2 separate regions of the Homo sapiens genome follow, and region 2 is linked to region 1. A link means that fine-mapping ties the variant in region 1 to the expression of a gene that starts in the linked region. Tissue or cell type: blood mononuclear cells. Region 1 holds a variant in brackets; the other region holds the start of a gene. All regions are shown on one strand. Distances are from middle to middle. Region 1 overlaps PER3 (period circadian regulator 3). Region 2 holds the start of PER3 (period circadian regulator 3).

Region 1 (12,338 bases):
AGCCTCCCAAGTAGCTGGGCCCACAGGTGCCTGCCAACACATTCAGCCCTTTCTTGTATTTTTTGTAGAGATGGGGTTTTGCCATGTTGCCCAGGCTGGTCTCAAACTCCTGTACTCAAGCATCCTCCTGCCTCAGCCTCCCAGAGTGCTGGAATTTTGAAGGTACGAGCCACTGCGCCCGGACTGTGTCCATTTTTTAATACTTCTTTTCCTGCCAGCACAGCTGACACCAGCTTGTTTGCTTGCTGTTGCCCATCCACGTAACAGCATCATGTGGAATGGAACGAGACCAGCCCGGCCCACAACTTCTTGTAGGCTACAGTACCCCTACCCCTAGGCCCTTGAATCTTTAGTCCTTTTTTTTTTTTTGAGACAGGATCTCAGTCTGTCACCCAGGCTGGAGTACAGTGGCCTGATCGCGGCTCACTGCAACTTCCGCCTCCTGGGTTCAAACGTTTCTCCTGCCTCAGCCTCTCCAGTAGCTGGGATTACAGGTGCACGCCACCACACCCAGCTCATTTTTGTATTTTTAATAGAGACAGGTTTCACCATGTTGGCCAGGCTGGTCTCGAACTCCTGACCTCAAATGATCCACCCACCTTGGCCTCCCAAAGTGCTGGGCTTACAGGTGTGAGCCATCACGCCCAACCCTGTGGTCCATTTTTAATTGAACTCTAGGCCTTTTGACCTGGCTCTAGGTTTCCCTCTGATGTCTATCTTTTTTAAGCATGGAAATTTTACTTGACTCCAGTATCATGCTGAGATCGAGAAGTTATGTTTTTTGGTATCTTGTTATACAGCATTGTCTACATGAACATGAACCTGAGAACAGTAGATCTACCAGTAAGACGTATTTGATCACCTGTTAATATTACAGTAGAGATGATGCCGAGCCATGGTGAGAAGAGGTCTCAAGGTTGCTCTTACCTCTTTCTACTCCAGGGTTTGGCCCCTCCGCAGAGCACGTGTAGAACTTAATGGAAGAAATGGGCTCCTGGCCGCCCTAACTCATGAGACTGATTTGTGCTAGAAAACGAATTTGATTATTAAGAAATACAGCTGCCAAGTAATTACCATTGGTATTGCTCAGAAAGGACTTTGTCCCTTCTCCCCACCCCATACCCCCCAAGTACGGAAACCTATTGGGAAATGAACATGAAATCCGATGGTTGCTTGGCATGAACGTAGGAAACTGCAGCCAGTAAGATGCCTTCATGAGGCTTCCATCTGGGGCTCGTTGATGGTCTGTGTTCCCCAGCCCCAGTCAGGGTTAAAGATACGGCCTGGATTTCTGAAGCTCTCTTTTCAGTTCTTTGATGAAATATATGTGAAATTATGCAACATATAATGAATATTCAGAATGTTTTCAGTATTTTAAAAAATTACACTGGTATTTACATCTTAACAACAAAGATTATGTGAGGGAAAGGATTTAAGGTCTAGTAGGTATTAATCTTGCTCATAAAATATTAATTATTCATTATATTTATAAAGTATAAAGCTCTGTGTAAGACAGTGTGCTGGGCCTTGAGAATGTAATGGTAATCAAAACATTCTCTTTACCATCAGGAAACCCACACTGTAATGGGAGAGACAGTAAATAAAAATGGCACTGTCATATATAACTAGAGTTTGGTAAGTGTGACAGTTGAAATGGGAAGGGGGCTGCAAGACTGTTTAGCAAGGGACCCTGCCTGTATCTCTCTCAGTCCTTCCCAGCAGCACTGCAGGCAAGCAGGTCAGGTGTCCTCAGCTCTCATTTTACAGGTAAAATCCATACTCAGTAAACTAGAGTAGCCTTCCCAGGGATCACTTCGGGAGGAGTGAAAGTGGAGACTGCAGCCAAGTTTTCTCTCTTACTCCTACTTCACTTCACATACACAGCAAAGCAATAAATACTTCATGGCATTTTTGTTGCTGTTTCATGAAGGCTGTCTCCTTATTGCCTGCAGATTAATCAGTTCTGCATTACATAGTTACTGACTTAAAATACATTTTAGTGTCTTACGCTTATAATCCCAGCACTTTGGGAGGCTGAGGCAGGAGGATCACTTGAGGCCAGGAGTTCAAGACTGGCCTGGGCAAGATAGTGAGACCCCTTCTCTACAAAAAATTTAAAAACAAAAATTAGTTGGGCATGGTGGTACGTGCCTGTAGTCCCAGCTACTTAGGAGGCTGAGGCAAGAGGGTTGCTTGAGTCCAGGTGTTCAAGGCAGTAGTGAGCCAGAATTGCACCACTGCACTCCAGGCTGGGCAGCAGAGCAAGACCCTGTCTCTTAAAAAAAAAAAAAAAAAATATATATATATATATATATATATTACATACACACACACACATACATACACAATTTAGTTTTGTAGAAATTTTCACAACTAGGAATATGTAAATCTCATAAAGCAATCTGTTCTATTTCCATTTCACTCAAAAAACAAATTCCAAATACCTCTGAAAGGTTTTCAAGCTCACAATGTGTTTATATTAGGAACCAGGTGTACTTTTATTCCCAGATCAATCAACCATGTATTTGTTCCTTTAGCAAATATGTAGTGGGTGCCTGCTATGGACCAGACACTGTTCTAGGTACTGAAGATCCAGGAGTGAACAAAGTAGACAAAATACCTCACCCCGTGGCACTTACCTGGCAGTGGGATATAGGGAGAGACAGTTACATAAAACGTATAGTGTGTCAAGTTGTGAAATAAGGTTATATATTCAGGTACTGCTTGCCACAGACATATGGTGTACCTGACGCCATGCAGATAGATATTGATCTAGATACAGTCTAGATGCTAAAGTAGAGAAAGGCGATTGGTGCAGCTGTTCCACTGTGATGGAAATGTGCAGGGTGAGTGAATAGTCCCTAGACGTGGAGATATTCCTGACTGCTTTTACGATACTGTCAGCATCCTATGATTGTCTTGATAATTTCTGCCTTTGGGAAACTGTTTCAGTTTTTAGGTAACTGAGCTGCATGTATCAGTTGAGAAACGGCAGGCTGGCATAATGGAAAAAGGACAGCCCAGGCTTGGGGGTCAGACGTAGGCGGATTCAAATCCTAACTGCTGCTTCTCGGTTATGTGAACTTGGGCCAGTTCCTCAGAGTACCTCATCCCCTGACTTTGTGTATCGGGGATAATTCCTACTTTCTGGGTTGTTGTGAGAACTCCGTGAGCTGATGCAGCTGATTCAGTATGCCTCACGAATGGGACTTGCTTTACCAAGGTACCCACAGGCAGTACAGTGTGGTGGCACACAGGGTGGACTCTGGAGCCCAGACTCTGGTCCCTTCGTGAACACCTGCTTCCCCCTTACCTGCCAGGCCACCTGGAAAAGGTATTTAATCAGGTGAAGGAGAAAATACGTGTAAAGCACTTGGAATAATAAGGATTTTCAAAATGTCAGGTATTCTTCTATGTTATAAAAACTAGTACAGGCTGGGTGCAGTGGCACACTCCTGTAATGCCAGCACTTTGGGAGGCCGAAGCGGGTGGATCATTTGAGGTCAGGAGTTCAAGACCAGCCTGGCCAACATGGCGAAACCCCGTCTCTACTAAAAATACAAAAATTAGCCAGGCGTGGTGGCGTGCACCTGTAATCCCAGCTACTCGGGAGGCTGAGGCAGGAGGATCGCCTGAACCTGGGTGGCAAAGATTGCAGTGAACCAAGATTATGCTACTGCACTCCAGCCTGGGTGACAGAGCAAGACTCTGTCTCAAAAAAAAAAAAAAAAAAAAAAAAAAACTAGTATAGTACAGTGCCTGTCACATAGAAGGTCCCAAGTAAACATCAGTTCCTTCCCTTCTTTGTAATCCTCTCTGTTGGCATGTGTGCCATTCACTGTATTCAGGTCATAGATTGAAGATGCTCTAAAATTTGAGTATAAATAAGACCGAAGGTATTGTAATAGCTACATTTTCACCACTAGGGTGGGTTGCAGAACTGTCTTAATTAGATAGCTTAAGTGTTAGGTGCAATAAACATTAAATGTTGTTTGGAAAACTTGGGGTCTTTAAAATTCTTAGAGTAAGTTACAGTTACTCAGTTACTGTCAAATTTTGAAACCAGTTATTTGCTGAAGATATTTTAGTAGCTAAGGAGGTTACTTGTCCCTGATTTCAGATTTGTACATATATAGCACTGAAACCATTACAGAAAGATGAGTGCTTTAGAGAAACTTAAGGGGCCTGTTAATGTCTCATTTGTTTCTTATTATTTTCTGTACCTTCATGAATAGAATTCTAGCCTCATATTTTTTCTTTGGAGTCAAAGAATTGTTTTGTAAAAGCATAGATCTATTCTTGGAATAGTCTATTAAAAATCACTTTCGACTTCATTTAAATTGTTTGACTCAGTCTCTCACTGGGCATTTTCTAGGAGCCCACTAAATGAGGATGTTTTTGCTACCAAAATTAAAAAGATGAACGATAATGACAAAGACATAACAGAATTACAAGAACAAATTTACAAACTTCTCTTACAGGTAAGGTGAGATTGTTAAAAATGCAAAGTTCCCTGAATTGTGTTTTGTTTTAATGCTCAGTAAATTCACTTCACAAAAATAAACTGTAAAGGGAGACAAATCTTTGCCCTCTACATTCCAGAAATTTTTGTCTTTCTCTTTTCGTTTTTAAATTAAATTTTATTCTTTGTTCCTTATTCTGTGTTACACAGAATATTTTTGTAAGAACCCATTGTAAGACAGCAAACCACGTGACTGAGAGAATTATTACATTCCAAAGGCACCAGCGTGCTCAGCCTTTGGGTTTTGGCTTCAGGATTTTTAAAATAATTTCAGTTTTAAAGATGGGAGGAGAGGGATGGTAGGTCTCAGTTTCTCTTAACTATTGTAAGGTAAAAGTGGGAAAATGTATGTGTTGAAATAACTAAAGGTGTTTTCTACAAGAGATTCAATGAATAAGTGGTAAATAGAACTAATGGTGTCGTGTAGAGTAACTGTCCTCGGTGGTTTTCAGAATGTCTCCCATAAAATCTCTAGGGTGCATGAAATACCTGCCACGTTCTTGGAAAAAGTATAATATATAGTTAGTTTGTTCTCTGTATTCTAAACTGGGCATAAAGAACTAGAGTTTATTTTCCTGTTTTAAAAAATTAATTATACTATGGCTTTTTAACAATATGTTGTCCTGGAAATACCTACCTAGACTAGAACATAAGACCTTGCTCTTGAAAATTGCCGAAATGACAGAGGAGTGCCTTTCGTGTCAGCATCAGCATTAAAAGTACCAACCTGCACACACCTAATTTAGTATTTCAGGAATTGTCATCTTAATTTTTACATGATTCTAGATGAGCTCTGCGGTGGCTGCATTTGAACAGCCAGCAATTCTGGACTTGTTCCTCTTTGTCCTTCCAGCCAGTTCACGTGAGCGTGTCCAGCGGCTACGGGAGCCTGGGGAGCAGCGGGTCGCAGGAGCAGCTTGTCAGCATCGCCTCCTCCAGTGAGGCCAG[T/C]GGGCACCGTGTGGAGGAGACGAAGGCGGAGCAGGTGCATGGGCTTATGTCACATTCTTATACAGGCATCGTGTTTTCTGTACTACCTCGGTTCTGAATGTGGTGACATCTTAGTATATATTCCTGACTTGAAGACCTCAACTGATAACAGATATTTTCATCCATTTTGGTTTGGAAAAAAAAGTCTGTAAAAAGAAAATATCACCTTTGGAAAGTGATATTTGAATTAATTGTATGCGTTCTAAAAATTAGCATATTGTGAACAGATTTATTTAGAATTTGTTGGTACCAGTATACTGTGGCATGGTGCAGGAAACTGGATTAAAGTGATTACTGTGCTTCAGTCATTATATCTTCAAAGAAACAGAAGCTAAGTGTATTTTGTTTATGTATCTTTTAGTGGACATTTTTATAATTTTTGAAACATATTTTATCATTCCTTTCCCTAAGATGACCTTGCAGCAGGTCTATGCCAGTGTGAACAAAATTAAAAATCTGGGTCAGCAGCTCTACATTGAGTCAATGACCAAATCATCATTCAAGCCAGTGACGGGGACACGCACAGAACCGAATGGTGGTGGTGAGTCAGCGAATGGTGGTGGTGAGTCAGCCGGCAGCCCCAAGGATCTCCTTCCATGGGCTGTCACTCTCTGCATAGACGTCATGTATGTGATTCGTGAGCATAAAGTCATGACCCTGTGTTGCTGCTTTTCATATTTCTTGATTTGCCTAGATAGCAATAGTAATAGCAATAGTAGTAATAATAATGGCAGCAACAAATACTGTTCTGAAAGGAAATGGTATTAGAATGTATTTGTAACAGTTGCAGTTCACTTTTACTGAAGAATTAACTTCTCTGTAAATACCAACGAATTATAGATTTCCCTCCCTACATGGGCATCTCTTTAAACAAAAAGAGTGGATTTTAGAATGCATTTTAAATAATAAAGTATATTAAAATGAAAATCCCTTTCTGTCATTTCAAACAGAAAATCTTTGTGACCTAAATTCAGTGAAAAACTTTGGCTCTTTTCTTGACATGTATTTACTTTTCTCAAATACAAGGTAAGGAGCACTCAAAAAGAGCTGGATCAGTAGTAAAACTGGCATCATATTGAAAAGTTAACCTAGTTGCATTGTATGGCATAGGGGATGTTCAATAATATAGAAATCAAATTAGATTGACATTTAAATTTAGCTAACTTTCCCTTCATTTTTCTTCCTGAATGTTAATATAACTTGGAAGTTGTGATGGATCTTGGTCACTAAATGTTATTAACCTCTATCATTGTCAAATGTAGACGTTTTACACAGTGGGGTGAAATTTTTGAGGTCAATAATGATAACAGCTATATGCTTCAGGACTTGACATGATTTACACCACAGAAAGTCAAACTGCTGCTCCCAGAGGTGACATCACTGGGAACTTTCTTAGTTTGTACTGCTGTAACAAAATACCTGTGACTAGATAATGGATAAAGAACAGAAACCTATTTCTTACAGTTTTGGAGGCGAGGAAGTCCAAGATCAGGGCACCGGCAGGTTCAGTGTCTAGCGAGGGCCAGGTCTGTGCTTCTCAGAGAACATCACTTCCTTGAAGGGGACAAACGCTGTGTCCTCACATGGCACAAGGGACAGAAAGGCAGAAAGAGACTTAGCTAGTTCCTTCTAGCCCTTTTGAAAGGTTGCAAATCCCATTCATGAGAACAGAGTCCTCATGACTTTGTCACTTCCTAAAGGCCGTGGCTGTTCACTGTCACATTGAGTTTTAAGTTGCAACATAGGAGTCATGGGGGACACACACATTCAAACCATAGTAGAGCCCATTGGACTCCCCAGACAGAGCAAGTCCTGTTCTTTCATTTTTTTTCTTTTCACCTCGATAGGAAGTTGAGCATTCCATTGGTTTCTTCTGCTGTTACATGTAAGGGCACAAGATAGGAATCACAGCTGCTTTTTTTATTGTCCCTTGAAACCCCTACATTTCTCCTCTGCAAAAGAATTTATCTTAAATACAATTTTTACTATATAGATTATTATTCCATGTCCTAGCAGAGAGAATTCTTTTAGGAGGTTTTTAAAGCTAAAGTGTCTAAATGTTTTTCTCATTGTCTGGTCCTGCTAGTCCTGCTCACAGCTGCCTGGGCCTAGGATCTCATGGTAGTATCACAGTTTCACACACTGACCTCTGTCCTCATCTCAGTATAGCTTCCCTTCTCACTTGCTGCATTATTCAGTTTCTTATCATCGACCATGGATCTTGTAATGCCATCGGTACTATTTTTTTTTGAAGGCTATATCTTTAAGTAGATGGCAATATTCCATCATTCACTTTTTATAAAATTGAAGCTGCAGGTGGCCGGGTGCAGTGGCTCATGCCTGTAATCCCAGCACTTTGGGAGCCCGAGGTGGGCAGATCACGAGGTCAGGAGATCGAGACCATCCTGGCTAACATGGTGAAACCCCGTCTCTACTAAAAATACAAAAATTAGCCGGGCGTGGTGGTGGGCGCCTCTAGTCCCAGCTACCTGGGAGGCTGAGGCAGGAGAATGGCGTGAATCCGGGAGGTGGAGCTTGCAGTGAGCCGAGATCGCGCCACTGCACTCCAGCCTGGGCAACAGAGCAAGACTCCGTCTCAAAAAAAAAAAAAAAAAAAAAAAAATTGAAGCTGCAGGTAACTCCGTGTGCTTATGCAGCTACTTTAGAAACTGAAATGTTCCCACTCCTTAGATAGATTCTTACATTTGGCTCTAATAGCACACACAGGATGTGACTTTGGAGAAGAAGGAAGATCTCTTGCCATTTGGCACAGCTTTGGAGAACCAATGTTTCTGGGAGATCTTGATTTTATTAACATTTGGAGACCTACAAGTTTAAAGAGCTACAGAAACCTTTATACTCTTTGCTTGAGAGACATGAGGATGCAACTTAAAAATGTTATAATTTAAATGTTAGAAATTGACTAGAGATGTATACCAATGAAAAGGAAAATGCTTAGTTAAGCATGATCATTGTTTACATGTGTTATAGGAACTTAAGTTTAAAATTTATATTTATCTTTCTTACAACCTAAGAGCAAATAATGCTTTAAAGAGAGATTTTAAAAGTTAGTATGAGTTAATATGGGAGGGCAAGGAATAACAGGGATATGTAAAGCCCCTTCAGCTACATGTACAGAGGCCAACTACAAGAGACATCATTGAGGAAATCTGGGAAAAGTAAGTGTCCATGTCTAGGGTGATGGAATGTCTGAGTGAGAGAAGAGGACCCTTAAGTTGAACAGGTTCAGAGTGAGATTGCTTCCAGTTTCTGCTCAGGGATGTAGAGAGCCAGAAACAGCATCACCCCAGACTTAACAACAGAAAAATCTAGATGAAAGGCAAGTTCAAGACCTTTCTTGACTTCAGAGTGCTGAGGTTACAGAGCAGCCAGCAGGCCTAAAATCTAAGGAGAGAAACATATTTGCAGGGAGGAGCAAGATGCAGCACTGGATTCCAGTGCACCGACAGCCTGAGTCAAGTAACTTGCAAAAGACAGACCCTCTCGAAGGCACAATGCCAAGGAAAGACCAAAAGCTGAAAGTGGAGCAGATACTGAGAAAAAACAAAAAAATTACCCACCAAACCAGCCACCAGCTGAGGCAAGAAGTATAACTAGAGGAATTTGAAAGCTGTTGTACATGCTGTAGAACCATTACAATACTCAAACCTGGCCTAAAAAATAGATTAATTCAGAGGTCTAAAAGAAGGAAAGGCATGCCCAGTCTCTGTGTCCTACACAAGTTACACAGTTCTCAACAAGAAATTATGTAGCATATGATGGGCAAGAAGGGAAAAAAGAAACCTCCCAAGAGACAAAACCATCATCAGAACAAGACTCAGAGAGGACACAGAAGTTGGAACTATCTGACAGGGAAAGTAAAATAATTATGAATGATGTATTAAAGGCTAGTGGACAAAGTGGGCACCATGCAGGACCGGGTGGGTAATCACAGCGTAGAGATGGGCATGAAAGAAACCCTCAAATGGAAATGTAACATCTGTAACATCAATGCCAGAGATGAGGAACGCATTTGATAGCACTCAACACAGCCTGGAAAAGAATCATTATTCAAGCTGAAACAGAGAAAGAAGAATGAAGCAAACAGAATAGAGCATTCTAAGAATTTGGAGACAGCCTCAAACTGTCCAACATAGGTGTAATTGGAATCTCAGAAGAAATAGTTGAAGAAATAACAGTCAGGAATTTTCTACTGAGCCAAAGACCATCAAGTAAGTTAAATACAGAACAAAAACAAAACAAAACACTTGGGCATATCATATTCAAACTGATGGAAAAAAGAAAATCTTGAAAGCAGAGAAAAAAGACAGATTACATACAGAGAAACAAAGACAAGAATTGTAACAGACATTTCTTCAGAAACCATGCACACTAAAAAGACAATAGAGTAGCATCCTCAACCAGAAAAACTGTCAGCACAGAATTCTATACCTAGTGAAAACGATATGTAAGAAAATAAAGGTGATATAAAGATTTTCTCAAAAATCATGGGAATTTATTTCCAGCACACTTACTCCACAAGAAATGCTAAAGGAATTTCTTAGAAAGAGTATGATACCAGACCAAAAACTTGGATCTACACAAAGAAGTGAAAAGCACTGGAAAGGGAATAAATGAAGATAAAATAAATTCTATTTTTTAATTTTTAAAATTAATCATAAAGATAATGGACTAAAGCAAAACCAGCAAACTGGATTTATAGCATATATAAAAGTAATCTTTGTGACAACAATACTACAGAGGGTGGGAGGAAGTTATTGGGAATATACTATTAGTTCCTTATACTGTATTTGAAACAGTATTTTATTATTTGGAGGTAGACACTGAGTACTCAAGAATATATATTGGAAACTTTAGGAAAACAATTCGAAAATATTTTTTAAGTATAAATAATAAGTTAATAGAGGAGGTAAAATGGAATTTAAGACACTTAACCCAAAATGGTGGTCAGAAACCAAATGGACTGAAGCCGGGAGTGGTGTTATGTGCCAGCTACTAAGAACACTGAGGTGAGAGGATCACTTGAGCCCAGGAGTTCGAGTCCAGCCTGGGCAACGTAGCCATACTTCATCTCTAAAAATACACTTAAATAGCAAATGGAACAAACAGAAAACAGCTAGTGGCTGGCATATTTTAATCCAGCAACATCAGCAATCACTAATGTACTGAATATATGAATCATATTCAATCCAGTTATTCATATTCAATATTAATAATCTCCGTACACTAATTTACAAGACTGAAATCGTCAAATTGGATGAAAAGATCCAGCTACATACTATCTACAAGAACCCATTGTGAAAATAAACATAGGTTAAAAGCAAAAGAGTAGAAAAGATATACCATGCTAACACAGAAGAAAGCGGGAAGCTGTATTATTACACAAAGTAAACTTCAGAACAAGGAATGTTAGTAGAGTTAGAAAGAGAGACTGTGTAACAGATAAAGGAGTTGATTCCTTAGGAACATAGAACAGTCTTACATGTTTATGTATCTAATATCAGAGCTGTTTATTCTCTAGCCATAATGGATTAAACTAGAAATCAGTAACAGAGGTATCCAGAAAATCCTCAAATGTTCAGAAATTAAATAACTTCATACTTACAAATAATCCACAGGTCAGAGAGGAAGTTTCAAGGGAAATAAAAACATTTTGGGCCGGGCGCAGTGGCTCACGCCTGTAATCCCAGCACTTTAGGGGGCCGAGGTGGGCAGATCACAAGATAAGGAGATCGAGACCATCCTGGCTAACACGGTGAAACTCTGTCTCGACTAAAAATACAAAAAAAAAAAAAATTAGCCAGGCATAGTGGCACACACCTGCAGTCCCAGCTACTCAGGAGGCTGAGGCAGGAGAATTGCGTGAACCCAGGAGGTGGAACTTGCAGTGAGCCAAGATCCCACCACTGCACTCCAGCCTGGGCGACAGAGCGGACTCCGTCTCAAAAAAAAAAAAAAAAAAAAAAAAAATTGAATTGAACAAAATGAAAAGAGAACATAAAATATGTGGGATATACCTAAAACACTGCTTAAAGGGAAATTTACAGCACTGAGTGTTTATATGGAAAAAAGAAGAATGGTCTCGACTCAGTAATCTAAGCTTCCTCCTTAAAAATAAGAGAAAAAAGAACAAATTGTTTCACAAGTAAGCAATAAGAAGGAAATAATAAAGACCAGATATCAATGGAATTGAAGAGAAACTAAGTTAAATCAAAGGGTAATAAAATTAATAAGTCTTTAGCCATACTGAACAAAAGAAAAGAAAGGAAGGACAGGTTGGACTTTATCAAAATTTAAAACTTCTCCTTTTTGAAAGAGACTGATAACTATGGCCATACCACCCTGAACGTACCCAATCTTATCTGAAAGGCACTGATAAGACAAATGAAAAGACAAAATAGTTGCAAATGATATATACAATAATGAAGTTATATCCAGTGTACATAAAGAACGCTCAAAACTCAAGAAGACAACCCAATTAGAAACATTTTTCCAAAGAAGATACATAAACAGTAAATAGCATATGAAAAGATGCTGAACCTAAGTCATTAGACAAAAAAAATGTAAACCATATGAGATAACACCACACATCTGTGAGAATGGCTAAGTTTTTTTAAAAAACTGACAAGTGTTGACAAGGACACAGAGTGACCAGAGCACTCACCTATTGTTGGAGGTAATGCCAAATTGTACAGCCACTTTGGGAAAGTTTGACATTTCCCATAAAGTTAGACATACTCTTACCATGTAACTTAGCAATTCTATTCCTAGTGATTTACCCAACTGAAATAGAAACTTAAGTTCACGC
Region 2 (12,082 bases), 24 kb before region 1:
TCAGGTATGAAAGAAAACAGGCAAGGAGGCACTGAGGGAGAAAGACACAGACTTTATCGCTCTGTGGCTCATTGTTACTGGAATATTCTAAAACTCTTGTTCACATGCTATTATGACTTATAAAGCAGCAACAGCTGAGGCGCACCAGGACACAGCTTCCATTTCTTTAACGTCTGTTCCCTTAACATCGCTGAAATGATTTACTGTTGAAGAGATGCCTTGCGGTGTGGCCAGCTGTGAGGAGAAAGCAGCTGGCAGTGTTAGGACATTAGTCCACCTTCAGCGCAGGGTCTCTGGCCGGGTCTGACTCAGAAACCTTGGTACTCGCCCCTTGGCCACAGTGCCCAGACCCATGTAACCCACTGGCTCCTGCATTAACCCAGAAATACCTCGCTTCTATCTGTGCACTTAGCTGGGAACTTACCCACTGTAATCACCTAAATAAAGTGTTTATAAACATGATTGTGGCACCTGTGCTCCTTGTAGAGGAATAGCTGCACCTGGTCCGAGTCCTAAAAATGCCATTCCTTGCTGCTCCCCATACCTGTCCCTTAGAAGCCCCGAAACTGTCTCCCCCTTTTCTCACCAGCCCCTCTCTAGGTACTCTACCCTTTTGGTACCCAGCATTTCCGCATACCCCAGTGAACAGAAGAAAACCGCTCCCCTTGTGAAAAGTGCTTTTTAGTATAGGCGATGAGGAGGAAACTGGCTTTTACACAATTACCAAAATTCAGGATGTGGCTTTGGAGTTCCCTAAATAGATGGTCTTTCTAAAGTGATGTGCAGAGCCGACCCCGTCTGTGGTAGACTAGATGGCTGCTGGCATGGACCCTGGGATAGATGAGTGGATAGGTGAGGGACATCCCCAGACACATGGCTCTGTTCCTGTAGATCCTTTTTTCCTCATGAATGTATTTCCATTCTTATCGTAGAACCCCTAGGAAACAATATAATACGGGTGGAAGAGGACTTTTGCTTATGTTTACAATAGGAAAATCCAAGTCCCTTTCCCGAATTACAGGTCCCACGATGATCTGGTCCTTTCTAGTTTTCTGACTTCATGTCACACGACTCTCCAGCTCTCTCTTCTCCAAGCAAGGTACTCCACCAAAGTATAGCTGTTGACATCGGAGAGACTTGTGCCCATGAGACTTTCAACATCAGGGTGTGGCTTGAAGGCCAGAGTTAGCTATGAATGAAAACAGGCAAGGAAGCCCTGAGGGAGAAATGGACCTGATAAAGTTTGTTTCGGTTTCTCATCAGCAAACTGACTTCTTTCCAAAGGTCTTCTGCAGGTACTTTCAGCTCTGCCGGGTCTACTTCCTCACCCGCGGCAGGCGCCTCTCATCTCAGGTTGAAATCCGCCTTCCCCACTCGCGGCAGGCGCCTCTCATCTCAGGTTGAAATCCGCCTTCCCAGAGGCCTGCCCTGCTGATCTGACTAAGCAGGCTCTGGCCTCCCCACTCCACCTTTCTCCCAGTTACTCTTCCTTCCAGTAGTTTGTTTTCTACACATCGCTTTAGGCTTTATGAACTTGTTTATGGGGTTGTTTGTATGGCTTTCTCAATAAAACGTCAACTCCCTGGGTGGCAGGGACTTTGGGCCACTGTTCTATCCGCTGGGATTCCAAGCGTCCCTACCCAGATCTGCACGCAATAAATGCTTGCTGAACGAATGCAGTTTGACAAAACCCAGCTTCGGAGGAGAGCAAGCCAACCTAGAGTATCGCTTGGAAGATATAAGGTGGTTTATTCAATACCTAACATGAACACTCACCTCACTTTTCCCCTCTTCCTTTACATACAATTTCATCCATCCAACAAATACTGAATATTTTTTCTGTACCAGGCAGCGAAGAGGGGCGGCACTCTGCACTGTACCTTTCATTTCTAACATGTTGAGATACTAAACTGAGCTTTCAGACATTTTTTTTAAAGGGCTCTACAACTTCTTTTCTGAAACAGAGTGTCTTTTACGTTTGTCTTCCTCCAGTTGCCAAATGAATCTAATTTTAGGAAGTGCAGGGAAGTGTTTTAAGTTCCACCGTCAAAATTCTGTTTCTGGGCCGGTGCAGTGGCTCACGCCAGTAATCCCAACATTTTGGGAGACCGAGGCCAGCAGATCACTGGGGCTTAGGAGTTTGAGAACAGCCTGGCTAACACAGACCATCTTTACCAAAAACACAAAAATTAGCCAGGTGTGGTGGCTGCACCTGTAGTTCCAGCTACTCGGGAGGCTGAAGCAGGAAACTGGCTTGAGCCCAGAAGACGGAGGTTGCAGTGAGCCAAAATCGCGCCACTGCACTCCATCCAGCCTGGACAACAGAGCAAAACCCTGTCTCAAAAAATAAAAAATCTGTTTCTAAAAATCGGGTGGGCTTTTTACCAGGGCTGCTTTATGGCCCGGTTCCTCCAAGTCCACCCCACTCACCGAAAGAGTTAGCGGAGGATGGGGGCGGTTGGGGTGGGCTCGGTAGGTCACGGGCGGTGAAAACCGTGGGAACCCAGAAAGACGGCCAAAGCACGATGAGGACCGCTGCCGGCAGCCCGCCCCACCCTGGGCTCCTCCCCACACCCGCTCGGGCAGCCGGGAGCCACCTACAAACTCCAGGACTCGACCCCAGAGCGCTGGCCTGAGCCGCCCCTGCTCGCCCCCAGTCCCCGCCTCTCCCTCCCTCTAATGCCCCCGCCCTCGACACCGTCGCCCCCCCGCCCCTGCCTCTCGCTCCCCACGTCTCTCGGCACCCCCGCTCCCATCCGCCCCCCCGTCCCCGCCTCTCGCCCCCATCCGTCCCCATTTCCAGCCTCCCCCTGACCCCGACTCAAGCCCCCCGACTCCGCCTCTCGCCCCTCTCTGCCCCCGCCTCTCACTCCCCTCTCCTTCCCCGCCCGCCTCTCACGTGGAGGTTGGGCCGGACCCGCCCCGCCCCACAGAGCCCGGGTCCCGCCCCCACGTGGCTGGCAGCTTCCTGGCCCTATCATTTCTGCGCTGGCTTCAGCGGCTCCGCCCCGGCGCCGTGCCAGGGGGCCGGACACTCCAGTCGCGCGGCACAGGCCTGAGGCCGCTGAGGGCCACCCCGTCCCCTGCCCGCCCGCCGGCCTGCTGGGATTGGCCGAGCGCCGGCCTCCGCCCGAGCCCGCGCGTTATGTAACGCGCCCCGGGGGCCCCGCCCCCTCGCCCTGGCTTATATAACCCGGGCGCACCGGCTCGCGCCCCGCCCCAGGGCCAATGGAGGCCTGCGGAGTCGGCCCCGACGACCAATCGCACGGCCCGGGGGCGGGACCGGTCACGCGGCGGCAGGGGGCGCGGCGCCGGCTGCTGACCGGCACGCGGCGAGCCTCGAGACTGCGCGAGGGCGGCCCCGGGGGCGAGCGGCTGTGCGCGGGGCCAAGGGCGGGGGCAGCAGGTGAGTGCGCGGCCGGGCGGGAGTTCTGGGCGGCCGGGCGGGAGTTCTGGGCACTCGCGCGCGGCAGAGGAGCCCCGCGAGCCCTGCCCTCGGTACTGGGGGCCCCCGGAGCGTGGCGCTTCCGAGCCACCCGCCTCCCCGGGCCCCATCCCTCGGCGCGCGGGAAAGTTGGGGCAGGGGTGAGGACCGCGCGGTCGGGGCGCCCCAGCCAGCCGGGCCGCTGGCGTCGGACTGTCTGTTCCATTTGTCCCTTGTCACCCTTGTCTCCTCCCCCTAGGCCGGAGTCCTGAAAGTCGAGCGAGCTCCGGGTTTTGAAAATGTTGGAGGGAAAAGCTCCTCGGAGATGAGCGTGACCCCCTGGCTCGTGGTGGCCGCCTGTTCTCACTAACGCCATGGCGGGGACCGGAGTGAGAAACCGGTGTCTGTCACTGACTGCAAAGTGAGCGAGAAGCAGGCTGCGGGCCGTCCCAGCACGACGTGGAGCCCCGCGGAGACCTCGAGATGCCCCGCGGGGAAGCTCCTGGCCCCGGGAGACGGGGGGCTAAGGACGAGGCCCTGGGCGAAGAATCGGGGGAGCGGTGGAGCCCCGAGTTCCATCTGCAGAGGAAATTGGCGGACAGCAGCCACAGGTGACGCGCTGGCTTCAGGCCGAGGGCCCCATGCGTTCGTTGTCCTTCCCTGGAGCAGGGAAAGGGGGACCTAAATCTTTTTATTCTTTTGTTTTCAAGCCCAGGGGAAAGTGTAAAGGGGAGACTCGGGCAATGTAGGATGAAGTGATCCGTGACACTGAAGAAAATTACCGAAGAGTATCAGGAGGGAAAAGTGGTTACAAAAGTTAGCTGAGTTGGGGCTCAAGTGGATTAAGGGAAAGTAAGTGGAGAATGTTTGTCATTCACCAGTTGCTTTGCCTCGAGTTCCCCACCTAGAGGAAGAGGGGTCACCACCCTGTGGACTGATGCCGGTAGAGCACTTAGAAACTTACCTGGCTTGCAGTTTGTGTTCCCTAAGCCGCAAGATGCTGTTGTCTTCAGAGGATGAAGTTGTAATTTTTTTTTATCTTCCAGTGAACAGCAAGATCGAAACAGAGTTTCTGAAGAACTTATCATGGTTGTCCAAGAAATGAAAAAATACTTCCCCTCGGAGAGACGCAATAAACCAAGCACTCTAGATGCCCTCAACTATGCTCTCCGCTGTGTCCACAGCGTTCAAGGTAAACAAGCCGGAGAGAAATTTCATCCTACGAATGCACCAGGACTCATACAAGCAGCCAGAGGAGTGGTCAGTGGGGTCTCAGTCAGACAAATAATTTGAGCTTTTTCTGGTGCTTTGTGGAAGATGAGCAAATCTACACCGATTCCATTCGTGTCTTAATTGTTCACATGTGAAAGACCAGGAAAACTTTATCTGTATAATAGTGTATAATACCTATGCAATGTTTTGCTCATGTGTTGCAAGAGAGTAGAGTTTAGCATAAGCACATTTTGAAGGCTGACCTTTTAAAGAAATATTGTCTTCTATGGAAGTTATGGGAAAAAAATGCATTCCACGAAATAGTTACCTTTACATGCCGTACACATACTTTCAAAATGCAGTAATGAGGCTGGGCGCGGTGCCTCACGCCTGTAATCCCAGCACTTTGGGAGGCCGAGGCGGGCAGATCACGAGGTCAGGAGATCGAGACCATCCTGGCTAATACGGTGAAACCCCGTCTCTACTAAAAATACAAAAAATTAGCCGGGTGTGGTGGCGGGCGCCTGTAGTCCAGCTATTCGGGAGGCTGAGACAGGAGAACGGCGTGAACCCGGGAGGCGGAGCTTGCAGTGAGCCGAGATCACGCCACTGCACTCCCGCCTGGGTGACAGAGCGAGACTCTGTCTCTAAAAAATAATAATGATAAAAATGCAGTAATGATATATCAGGAATTTACCAAACTAAAAATGAACCATTGTAAACACTTTTTCTCTCTGACATTTCCAGGGATTTCATTAAAGCCATATTCTCTTTAGCACAAACCTCAGTGCTTCATATATGATATGTTCCTGAATGACAGAGTACTGTTTCTGCTCCCCCCGCAAAAAAATTGTGTATGCATCTGAAATTTTTAGTTAGTACCTTAAATGTATCTTGCTTCCTGTGATCCAGAACATGCAGAATTCATAAAATCAAATCTTAAGTTTGCACAACTATCAGTATTTTAGGTAAAAGCAGAAAATGATCTGTTTTTGAGAAAAATGCACTGAGGTGTTCTCATCCGAAAAAAATAATCCAGCTTGATAGTGATGAAATGGTTTCCTAAAGATACTGTTGTCACTGGACTACCTGTTTATCTCCCTGTGTTTCTTAGCAAACAGTGAGTTTTTCCAGATTCTCAGTCAGAATGGAGCACCTCAGGCAGATGTGAGCATGTACAGTCTTGAGGAGCTGGCCACTATCGCTTCAGAACACACTTCCAAAAACACAGTAAGAATTCATGCATTTTGCCATATCAACCTGGGTGACTTTTCCTAAGGGCCTGCTCTAGATGTAGGCTTTTAAGAAGGATAACAACGTTTCAGCAACCACAATTTGAGAGAAGCAAAGGAGGAACTGCTAAAGAGGCATGGTGTAGCTTCTCCGCCCTTGCCAGAGAAAACATCTAAAAGCAGAAGCAGCCCGTTCTGTGTGCTGTGCAGCTCAGTGACTTTGGTTATGAGGTGCTTCTAGCTCCTTAGCATTCCCAAGCTCTCTTGAATTAAGAGAAAACAAAAATTACACTGCAGAGTAATTTCCTGCACCTTATTCTAATCTCCGAATTGTTAATTTCTATTTATATCATTCTTAGTTCCAATACCTACTACTTCAAGTTGTAACAACTGGATGTTATAGAACAGGTGAGTTGAGATGCTGTCATTTTTCCTAAAATTTTGGAAGAGACCTTTAGTATATCTTTTTTAATCTCTCTTCTTGTTTGACAGAGTAATCTTCATGTTTGGTTGATACGGTGGAGATTACTTATTTTAAGTAACATAATTGTTACTTAAAGATTTTGTAATAGTGGAACGTGCGCAATCCCTAGTATTATAACAGTGCTTATTTTATGGACTGGTGTGTACATAGTACTGTAGGAGGTGCTATGGAGATTTTTAAAAATAGCTTAAGAAAATATTTGTCTTTTAAGATATTTAAAATAAAGCTAGAGAGGAAAGTATGCCAATGCTAGCAAACACAAACTGCTGATTATAAATAAGTTTCATTTATGTGTAATGGAAAAAATTAGAGCAGTGATGCTTATGTAATGAGGTTTGTCAAGGACAGCTTCTTGAAGAAGGTGAATCTTCAGTGTGTCTTAAAGCATAGAATCTGCGTTGATGACGAGAACACCGTCCACCCAGGTGTATGGCACAGTTTGCAGAGAAGTTATGTGCCATACGTATTTTAGTCTGCATAGAATAAGCTAGTATATTTTTTGGCATAGAAATTGAACCTTCAGTAGGTGAAGTGCAGGTCTTAGGAGAAGATTTAAGAAGCATGTTGGAGAAAATTATTTGAGGAGTTTTGTTGCATTTGTAGGTTGTGCCTGTGTATTTTAAGATACTGGTCATGTTAGAGATCCAGAAGAAATTTACCTTTCAGGGAATATTGCTAGTGAGTATCTCAATATTTGCATTTATTTTAAATGTTTTTCATAGGATACCTTTGTGGCAGTATTTTCATTTCTGTCTGGAAGGTTAGTGCACATTTCTGAACAGGCTGCTTTGATCCTGAATCGTAAGAAAGATGTCCTGGCGTCTTCTCACTTTGTTGACCTGCTTGCACCTCAAGACATGAGGGTATTCTACGCGCACACTGCCAGAGCTCAGCTTCCTTTCTGGAACAACTGGACCCAAAGAGGTAACAGGACCAATGTTCAGATGTCTATCTTTCCTCATCAAGATCAGTTTCATTCTTACAGGAATAGTACAGAAATTAACATATTATTTAGAACATGCACACTATCTGGTTTTTCTTATTCCTGTTATAGAAAGTCACGTGATGAAAACAGCATTTTAAAAGCTTCTGATAACATACTCAATACGTTTGTTTCCATTTTGTCACATCTGTTTCACAGATGATATGTCATAAATATTATTTCATTACCAGCGTATTGTATAGTGGTTTAGTTGCTATGAAGGCTCTGTTTCCTTTAAGTTAAAATTAAATGTTTTTCCTCCTTCATGATTTCCTTGTATGAGAAATTTTACTTTGGAGATAAAATTTGGATCATTAGGCTGGGCAAGGTGGCTCACGCCTGTAATCCCAGCACTTTGGGAGGTTGAGGCAGGTGGATCACCTGAGGTCAGGAGTTCCAGACCAGCCTGGCCAACATGGTAAAACCCCATCTGTACTAAAAGTACAAAAATTAGTCAGGCATGGTAGTGCATGCCTGTAATCCCAGCTACTCAGGAGGTTGAGGCACGAGAAGCACTTGAACCCGGGAGACAGAGGTTGCAGTGAGCCAAGATCACACCATTGCACTCCAGCCTGGGCGACAAGCGTGAAACTGTTTCTGGGGAAAAAAAAAAAAAAAAATTCAGATCATTAGCTCTCTTACAGTTTTTCTTGCCCCTGAAACTTATGAGTCTTATTACTTTGTTTTCCTTCTGGAATGCTTTTCTTTCATAATTCAAAGATGCCTATTGCAGTTTTCTTTGTGACATTCAGTCCTGTGTGATCTTAATTTATTTCTTTTTAGTCATCCTTCATTATTTTATATTCTTTGTGAAGTGTCTCTTAAAGAGCTTTAAAATATATATATATATATATCAGCGTTCTCTTTGATTCCAAGCCCTTCTCTCTAATTAAAAAAAAAATTCATTGTAGTAAAAAACACATACAGTTTACTATCTGATATAGTTTGGCTGTGTCCCCACCCAAATCTCATGTTGAATTGTAACTCCCACAATTCCCATGTGTCGTGGGAGGAACCCAGTGGGAGATAATTGCATCATGAGGGCGTCTTTCCCATGCTGTTCTCGTGATAGTGGATAAGTCTCATGAGATCTGATTGCTTTAAAAATGGGAGTTTCTCTGCACAAGCTCTCTCTCTTTGCCTGCTGCCGTCCATGTAAGATGTAACTTGCCCCTCCTTGCCTTCTGCCGTGATTGTGAGGCTTCCTCAGCCACGTGGAACTGTAAGTCCGTTAAACCTCTTTCTTTTGTAAATTGCCCAATCTTGGGTCTGTCTTTATCAGCAGCATGCAAACGGACCTAATACACCATCTTAATCATTTTTAGGCATTCACTCCATTGCTGTGAAGGATGTTTACATTGTTGTGAAACAGATCTCCATAACTTTTTCATCTTTATATCTGAAATTCTATCTACTATTTCTAATTTTTTACCCAGTAGTTAATTTAATGAAGGGTAGCTTTGCGTGTTTCTTCTTCCAATTATAGATTGCCCCATCTTTTAAAAATATTTTTACATAAGCTCTAGAAAACATGCATGTCATCCCTGCTTGCTTCTAGCTCATCTCTTTTCCCATCTTTCAAAAATACTGATTTTATTTCTCATCCCCTTTCCTAAATACACATTTTCAACCTTTGTCTGTATTTGTTTCTCTGCTTTTGTTAGCTGTTCATTCCGTAAACATTTATTTAATAATCACGTGGGTCAAGAACTAGTCCGGATACAGATACAGCTGTGAACAGGACATACACAATATTGTCTGCCAGGTCTTTCCCATTTTTTCCCCAGGTATTTTTCCTTCAGCACTGCCTGTGGCTTTTCAGCCTTTTCATTTTTGCTGATTACTGATTACTGCGATATTTCCCTTCTGTATTAGTCCATTCTTACGCTGCTATAAAGAACTATCTGAGACTGGGTAATTAATAAAGGAAAGAAGTTTAATTGACTCACAGTTCCACATGACTGGGGAGGCCTCAGGAAACTTACAATCATGGCAGAAGGGGAAGCAAACATGTCTTTCTACACATGATGGCAGGAAGGAGAAGAATGGGAGCCGAGTGAAGGAGGAAGCCCTTTATAAAGCCATCAGATCTCTTGAGAACTTACTATCATGAGAACAGCATGGGGGAAACTGCCCCCATGATTCAATTACCTCCCTCCGGGTTCCTCCCACCACACATGGGGATTATGGGAACTATAATTCAAGATGAGATTTGGGTGGGGATACAGCCAAACCATATCATTCTGCTCTTAAGCCCTCCCAAATCTCACGTCCTCACATTTCAAAATGCAATCATGCTTTTCCAACAGTCCCCCAAAGTCTTAGCTCATTCCAGCATTAGACCAAAAGTCCAAGTCCAAAGTCTCATATGTGACAAAGCAAGTCCCTTTCACCTATGAGCCTGTAAAATCCAAAGCAAGTTAGTTATCTCCTAGGTACAATAGACGTACAAGCATTGGGTAAATACACCCATTTCAAATGGGAGAAATTGGCCAAAACAAAGGGGCTACAGGCCCCTTGCAAGTCTGAAATCCACTGAAGCAATAATTAAATATTAAAGCTCCAAAATAATCTCCTTTGACTCCATGTCTCACATCCAGGTCATGCTGGTGCAAGAGGTGGGCTCCTACAGCCTTGGGCAGCTCTGCCCTTGTGGCTTTGCAGGGTACAGCCTCCCTTATGGCTGGTTTCATGGGCTGGCATTGAGTGTCTGTGGCTTTTCTGGGCTCACAGTGCAAGCTTTTGGTGGATCTACCATTCTTAGGTCTGGAGGATGGTGGCCCTCTTCTCACAGCTCCACTAGGCAGTGCCCCAGTGAAGACTGTGTGGGCTCCGAACCCAAATTTCCCTTACACATCTCTCTTAGCAGAGGTTCTCTATGAGGGCTCCGCCCCTGTAGCAAACTTCTGCCTGGACATCCAGGCATTTCCGTACATCCTCTGAAATCTAGGCAGAGGTTTCCAAACCTCAGTTCTTGTCTTCTGCACACCTGCAGGACCAACACCATATGGAAGCTGCCAAGGAATAGGGCTTGCACCCTCTGAAGCTATGGCCTGAGCTGTACCTTGGTCCCTTTTAGCCATGGCTGGAGGTGAAGCAGCTGGAATGGAGGGCATCATGTCCCAAGGCTGCACAGAGCAGTGGGGGCCTGGACAGGCCCAGAAAACCATTTTTTCTCTCGTAGGCCTCAGCCTGTGATGGGAGGGGTTGCTGTGAAGTCTCTGACATGCCCTGAAGACATTTTCCCCATTGTCTTGGTGATTAACATTTGGCTTCTTGTTACTTCTGCAAATTTCTGTAGCAGGCTTGAATTTCTCCCCAGAAAATGGGTTTTTCTTTTCCATTGCATCTTCAGGCTACAAATTTTCCAAGTTGTTATGCTCTGCTTCCTCTTTAATGCTTTGCTGTTTAGAAATTTCTTCCGTCAGATACCTAAATCATCTCTCTCAAGTTCAAAGTTCCACAGATCTCTAGGCCAGGAGCAAAAGTTGCCAGTCTCTTTGCATAGCAGAAGTGTCCTTTACTCCAGTCCCAACAAGTTCCTCATCTCTCTCTGAGACCACCTCAGCCTGCACTTCATTGTCCATATCACTATCAGCATTTTGGTCAAAGCCATTCAACAAGTCTCTAGGAAGTTCCAGACTTTCCCACATTTTCTTGTCTTCTTCTAAGCCCTCCAAACTGTTCCAGTGTCTGCCTGTTACCCAGTTCCAAAGTCACTTCCACATTTTTGGGTATCTATGGCAGCACCCCACTCTTTGCAGTACAAGTTTACTGTATTAGTCCATTCTCATGCTGCTAATAAAGACATACCCAAGACTGGGTAATTTCTAAAGGAAAGAGTTTTAATTGACTCAGTTCAGCATGGCTGGGGAGGCCTCAGGAAACTTAACAATCATGGCAGACGGGGACATGTCCTTCACGTGGCAACAGCAAGGAGAAGCGCCAAGCAAAAGGGGGAAAAGCCTCTTATAAAACCATGAGCTCTCATGAGAACTCACTATCACGAGAACGGGATGACGGCAACCACCCCCATGATTCAGTTACCTCCCACCAGGTCCCTCCCTTGACATGTGGGGATTATGGGAACTACAATTCAAGATGAGATTTGGGTGGGGACACAGCCAAACCATATCACCTTTTATGTAAAATCTTAATATGCCCTGAAATAATTCTTTTGGATCTCAAAATTCACTTATGCCATAAGGCACGATATAATTCTAGTTTACTCTTTATATTGTACTTTTGCCTTATGAATCTCAAGGATTGATACTGAGAGCAGTTGGTTAATGCCACCCCCTTTATAGGCTATGCCTGCGTTACCCCCTTCGATTCCTTACTTTGAGCACATAGAACATCAAGAGGACTTAGGAAGCAATCCACTCAGCTGTTGTCAACCTCTGGTCCTGTATTAGAATATGTTTCTATTTAACATGTCTTGTACAAACCTCTTAGAAGGATCTGACCATTACTTCTTCAGAGTACGCTTTTAGAAACAAGCATCACATATTTACAGCCTAGGAATGGAAATGCATTGTGGGTGCACGTCTGCTGTCTTAGATCACGTAGTCTAGCTTTCAGTGGTCCAGGACTTCTAGTGAGTGCAGTTGGAGTTCATGTGTCTGGTGTGATGAATAAATGGTATAAGCAAACTGACCTCACAGTAGAGGCCGTTTTCTGTAGAAGATTATACCAATCTTCAGTGCTTTATTAATGCTTTCTGACTCTTCTGTGATCGTCTCTTAGAA

The links.
Region 2: PER3 starts here. The variant in region 1 is fine-mapped to the expression of PER3 in blood mononuclear cells (TOPMed, PIP above 0.99). The same link has a PIP of 0.9 or more in monocytes and whole blood.

The regions. Positions count from the first base shown.
Region 1 is chr1:7,804,518-7,816,855 of GRCh38, forward strand. PER3 (period circadian regulator 3) reads left to right here. Exons shown (of 22, transcript NM_001377275.1): 11 at 4,376-4,481; 12 at 5,376-5,504; 13 at 5,921-6,071. It overlaps LOC124903833 (a long non-coding RNA gene), which reads right to left. Exons shown (of 2, transcript XR_007065450.1): 2 at 4,620-7,087. Among named protein-coding and RNA genes, the nearest start is that of PER3, 26 kb to the left of the region's middle. RefSeq lists a silencer at 6,758-6,958. The variant T/C (reference allele first, on the strand shown) is at 5,471.
Region 2 is chr1:7,780,971-7,793,052 of GRCh38, forward strand. It overlaps PER3 (period circadian regulator 3), which reads left to right and starts at 3,321. Exons shown (of 22, transcript NM_001377275.1): 1 at 3,321-3,406; 2 at 3,684-4,035; 3 at 4,471-4,616; 4 at 5,751-5,866; 5 at 7,075-7,276. The coding sequence starts at 3,908. It overlaps VAMP3 (vesicle associated membrane protein 3), which reads left to right. Exons shown (of 5, transcript NM_004781.4): 5 at 1-462. RefSeq lists a silencer at 2,787-3,396.